Linked DNA regions of Homo sapiens: region 2 is linked to region 1. Evidence: fine-mapped expression QTL. Tissue or cell type: monocytes after LPS. Region 1 holds a variant in brackets; the other region holds the start of a gene. All regions are shown on one strand. Distances are from middle to middle.

What was found. PIP is the estimated chance that this variant, and not a neighbour inherited with it, causes the effect.
Region 2: it holds the start of USP12, and the variant in region 1 is fine-mapped to the expression of USP12 in monocytes after LPS (Kim-Hellmuth 2017, PIP 0.95).

What each region holds. Positions count from the first base shown.
Region 1 is chr13:27,074,923-27,077,607 of GRCh38, reverse strand. It overlaps USP12 (ubiquitin specific peptidase 12), which reads left to right. Exons shown (of 9, transcript NM_182488.4): 7 at 2,220-2,417. It also overlaps the pseudogene RBBP8P2. Among named protein-coding and RNA genes, the nearest start is that of USP12-AS1, 49 kb to the left of the region's middle. The variant G/TG (reference allele first, on the strand shown) is at 1,579.
Region 2 is chr13:27,170,389-27,173,073 of GRCh38, reverse strand. It overlaps USP12 (ubiquitin specific peptidase 12), which reads left to right and starts at 1,263. Exons shown (of 9, transcript NM_182488.4): 1 at 1,263-1,482. The coding sequence starts at 1,435. USP12-DT (USP12 divergent transcript) reads right to left here and starts at 815. Exons shown (of 2, transcript NR_046548.1): 1 at 702-815. RefSeq lists enhancers at 487-676, 2,177-2,286 and silencers at 737-1,376, 1,517-1,566, 1,627-1,716, 1,787-1,856, 1,887-1,936.

The sequences.
Region 1 (2,685 bases):
CAATTCCATGGGTAGTTGGTTTCTTTGTGGTAGCCAGCACTTCTCCTCTGGGAGGATCTTTGGCAAATAGGATTCATATTCTTCATGTGTTATCTTATTAAACATATTGTATCTGCTATTATTGAGATATTTTCTCTTTTCTGCATTTGGACTCCTCCCCTTGTGTAATTTCTAAAAGCACATTTTCCCTAACCATCGGGCCATGTTCATTCTCTTTCCTCCTCCTAATCTTACCTGACTGCCATTTATTAATAGTGCACTGACACTCATTTTATGCTCAGAAAATTCTTCTTTTGCATCTACCATCCATTGGAAATTCTCAAAGGATACCTTGTTGTTTTGTAAAGATTTCTTTTCAGTAACTCTATGTGGGTTTAATAAAAGGTCTGATGTTTCATAGTTGAATTATATTTTATGTATAATTTTATATCCTGACTTCTTAAGTATTTTCTTATGTCACCTAGAAACTTTCATCAGCATTGTTTTATTTAAGTTGTACAACACTCGGTTATGTTTGAATTCTAATTTATTTCCACATTTCCTGTTGCTGAATAGTTGGGATTTTTTACAATGTAAAAGAACTCTAATAGGAGATTATTCTCATAAGGGATGTTTTTGAGATTATACATTTAATTGTATTTCCAGAAATAGGATTACTGAGACAAAGGCCATAAAGGCTCCTAATTTATATTGGTGGATTGCTTTCTAGGAGTGACTAGGTGTTTACCTTTACTTTGGCTAATGTTTCCAAAAGGCCAAGTTCATTCACTAGTAAGTAATTTAGGAATAATAAGCTATCCACCATATTTAAGAAGTGTAGAATGCAGATTTAGTATAATGTTATAAAATGATTTTTTTTTTCACTTATTAGAGGCAGTGGCTTACCATATATCACTTCTTTAAATTGTGAGGAGTATTTTGCTTCACCAGACCCATTTAAAATTCAGTTCTGCAGCATTTGGCATCTATCATATGTCAGGCATGTTGCTAGATAGTGGGGAAATAAAAATGAAGGGAATGCTTTCTAGCTGCCAAGAGTTCAGGGCCTAGAAGAAAAGAACCATAATCACCTAAAATTGTTACCATGTAATAAGCTTGACATATATAAAGTGAACCTGTAAGGTGCTGATGGAGGATTGAAGAGAGCAGGTGTATTTGTGCCAGAGGGTGTGACATTTGAGCTGAGCCATTAAAAGAAGAATAGATTTTTAGGTGAAGTAGGAGTACAAAGGCACTCTCAGGGAGAAATGGCATTTAAAGGCATAATAAAGATTGTTTAGAACATGAAGAACAGCCTGTGTTTCACAGTTAAAAACTTAACTCCTAAGTTTCCAGGTTATTTTACTCCCTTTCTAGGATATACATTGTCATTTTTCTTAATATGGAGTTATTTCTTGTCTCTGACAAGCACCTTGATTGGTCTTTAGTGCTTTTATTGTTTTAGTCTCCTATTGTCAGTCTGTACCTGCATCATATAGATTGATAGAAAAAATAGATTTCAGTCTACCCAAGTCCAAAGGAATTGTCAGTTTCAAGAAACTTGTTTTCCCTCTACCACTCTTTTTTTTTTTTTTTTTT[G/TG]AGACGGAGCCTTGCTCTGTCACCCAGGCTGGAGTGCAGTGGCGTGATCTCAGCTCACTGCAACCTCCGCCTCCTGGGTTCAAGCGATTCTCCTGCCCCAGCTTCCCGAGTAGCTGGGACTATGGGCGCCTGCCACTATGCCCGGCTATTTTTTGTATTTTTAGTAGAGACAGGGTTTCACCATGTTAGCCAGGCTGGTCTTGAACTCATGACCTCAGGTGATCCACCTGCCTCGGCCTCCCAAAGTGTTGGGATTACAGGCGTGAGCCACCGCGCCTGGCCTTCCCTCTACCACTCTTGAGCACCCCGTGCATTTAGCCTTATTATAAGAGACGTGTGTTTGAAAAATACAGATTCCTTAACCAAGGACTAACGCCATTCCATCTGTTTTGGAGCCATATTGAGTGCTGTGTCAAATTATGTGGTGTGACAATGATGGGTAGGGTGGGGTCATATTAAGATGTTCAGAATGTTGTTTTGTCAGTATAAAAATAATTGATAGAAATGTGCAAAACTGGGCATTGCTGGGCTATTAAAACTGACCATTGTCTATCTGTTCATTGGATATCGTAAAGTTTGATAATTCAAGGACATGGTGGATATCTTTTATGAAATTTTGTTTTCATTTTTATTTTTAATAGGATGAAAGTTAAAAAACTGCCCATGATTCTAGCTCTACACCTGAAGAGATTTAAATATATGGATCAACTTCATCGATATACAAAACTCTCTTACCGGGTAGTTTTTCCTTTAGAACTTCGTCTGTTTAACACTTCAGGTGATGCCACCAATCCAGACAGAATGTACGACCTTGTTGCTGTTGTGGTTCACTGTGGAAGGTAATTGCAACTCCGGGGACATAGTAGTGGAATTCCTAGGTTAGAAGAGCAGGGTACATTCAAGATGTTCATGAATTATTCATATATAGAACTTTTAGAAATTCTGTATTCTCTCAAGATAATTTTATTTCAAAATGGAGTTTTAGCTTTATGTTTTATCATTTCTTAAAAATTTTATATGTTAAAATATATTGTTTTTATTTTTATTATTTATTACTCTACAAGTACTATATCTGATTTCCTAGAACTTTGAGATCTGTTAGTTTTT
Region 2 (2,685 bases), 95 kb before region 1:
ACTATGGAAACAGTATTCATGTACCAGAAGTCTATTTTTCACTTAAATTTTGTTTGAATGCTTTTTGTTTTTGAGTGCTTTGAACCCTTGAGGTGAGGCATTTCTGATTTTACAGCTCTGCCTGAATTCAGATCCTCAACCCCACTGAATTAGGGGAACCCAGAAAAGTACCCCATCACGAGTTCAATCAGAAAATATCACAAGCTTTCTAACATAATAATTTATGAAGTTATTCTACTCACTTGAACTACTTTCTCAAATAGGAAAAAATAAAGCTGAGCTGCCAGGCATGAAGAACAGGGTGCAAATATGAATTTTATAAAAGGAGAAAGAGGAACTACCCATGCCAGTAGCCAGCACTGCCTAAGGATTTCTCACAGGGCATTTTTCTTGCTTGCGGGCTTCCTGTCTCTGGTAATATCATCATCACTGCTGGCTTGAGATCCTCCCTATTTTGCAGCTCAATGTGCAGATATTTAGAAGCCTATTATAAATTTATCGCCAACAGGCCAACAGGTTTCGCTCCTCTCCTTCCCCCATTACTTATCTTTCTTCTTAATTCAAAGAGTTAAACATGTGTAATTTGTTCTTTGCCTCTTCATTTTTGTTTAATTATTTTGTCTTTTTCTAAGTTGTGTTTGACTCCGGTGATTCATCCAATATACGTAAAAAGAAACAAACCAAGTGCTTGGGACGCATACCCGGGTTATCTTAACTGTGCAGAGCAGGTTTCCTCCCACTCCGCCCGTAGTTACCCAGATCATCGCCTCCGTTTTCTGTTTAGGCAGCGGGGGCTCGCCGTCCCCTCGCCCGCGGTGGGTGTCGCAGCTGGTCCCCTCCAGGGTTCTCCCAGATCGCCGCCGCCACCCCCGCGCCTCCCCGCCGCACCCCTTCCTACGCGGGGGTCTCTGGGTCCCCGGCTCTAGGACCGCAGGGACGCGGGCAGGAGGTGGCGCCCGCCTTCGGTCCTGCCCTCTGCCGCGCGCGGGGTGGGGACGGACCGGAGTTCCCCGGCTCGCGCACAAGGGCCGCGGAGGGGTTGCCGAGGGGTGGGCGGGGCTGCGCCGCCTGGCCGCGCCGCTGCCTGGCAGGCCGGGCATTAGGGCCTCGGCGGAGCCCGCTCCCCTGTGCGCTGGGCGGGGTGGGCGGAGGGCGGCTTCGCGTGCAGGCGCGGGCCCGGAGGCAGCGGCTGCGCCCTGCGCCGGGGCGGAGCCGGGGGCGGGCCGGCGGCCGGCAGGCGGGGGCTGGGGCCCGAGGCCGGGAGTGCCTGAGCGCCGGCGGCGACGACGGCAGCGGCGGCCCAGCGGGCTCGGTGGTTGGGTCCGCGGCGGCTCGGGGTCCGCCCGCGGGCTGCGGTGCGAGCGGGCGGCCCGGCTCCCCTCCTCCCCCGCCCGCCGCCGCCGCTGTGATTGGGTGGAAGATGGCGCTGGCCGGATGGAAATCCTAATGACAGTCTCCAAATTCGCCTCCATCTGTACCATGGTAGGTGGCGGCGAGCGGGCGGCCGGGGCTGCCGGGACCTCTCGGGCGGGCGGGCGGCGCTGGACCCGCCTCTCCCAGTGGCCGCTCGCGGGGCCTAGCGCCGGGGCGGGCGGGCGGGCTGGGCGGCCCGGGCGGCCCGGGCGGGGGCGGTTGGACGGCGCGCAGGCGGGGAGCGCGGGGGTGAGCGGCCCAGGCGGCTGGGGAGGGGGCGCCGCCTGGTGGGCCAGGGCGGCGCGAGGGTAGCGGTGAGTGGGCGACCGTGCCAGACGCGGCGTCGGGCGGGCACCGGCCTCCGGGAGTCCCCGGCTGAACTGCTGGGGTCCGCTCGGGACGCGGGGACGAGGGCCGAGGCGCGCCCGGCCTGTGCCGGGGTGAGGGGTGGGCGCGCGCGAGCCAGAGCGCGGCCCCGGGCCGGGGTCGTCGGGGAGGGGGCGCGGAGCCGCGCGGGCTCCATTTCCTTCTGGTCGCGCGCCGAGCGGGAGGGGTCCCCGGGAGGGGTGGGGGTCGGCGGGCAGGAAGGAAGGGTCTCGGCCGGGGCGGGCAGCGCTCATTCCCGCCTGGGAGAGGACGGAAGTCAAGTGCAGATTTCCTCGCGCCGCTGGCTGGGCCGAGTCCCCGACCCCGCGCTGGGGGAAAGGGGCGTGTGTGAAGGTGGAAACTTTAAATAAGTACTGTTGAAATTCTCTCCATTTTCTCCTCTGAGAGGCACGAGCTCTCCCGTTTCCAGCCGTGTGTCCAGGTGGCAGTCTTGTCTCTGGGAATGCACGTTAATCTTGAAAAGCAGCATTAGCTTTCCTGTCATTTGTTTACTTCAGCCCACCAGACACATCTGTATGTGGCTGGAGCTAGGTCTGTCTGTGCGGGGACCGCCTGCCAAGGCGATGGTATTTGTTTTCCTAGGGCGTTTAAATAGACTGTAAGGGAAAAGTGCTAATGCCCGCTGGAAGTCCCGAATTAAGCAAAACGTGGGCGCGTTTAAAACTTGGTGTTTTGTGCGTGGCCAGAAGGACCACAGTTTTCCACATGATGAGACAAATTCGTTTCATTAGTTCCTCATGAGCTTATATGTAGGGATCATAATTTATGAGTCATCACCGAAAAAAGTTGTTCTTTGCAACGTGGGCCTAGTGGTTGTTATTAGAGACTTCTGAAATCTTGTGTTTCATGCCTCACTGGCCCTATTTATGCAACTGATTTCATATA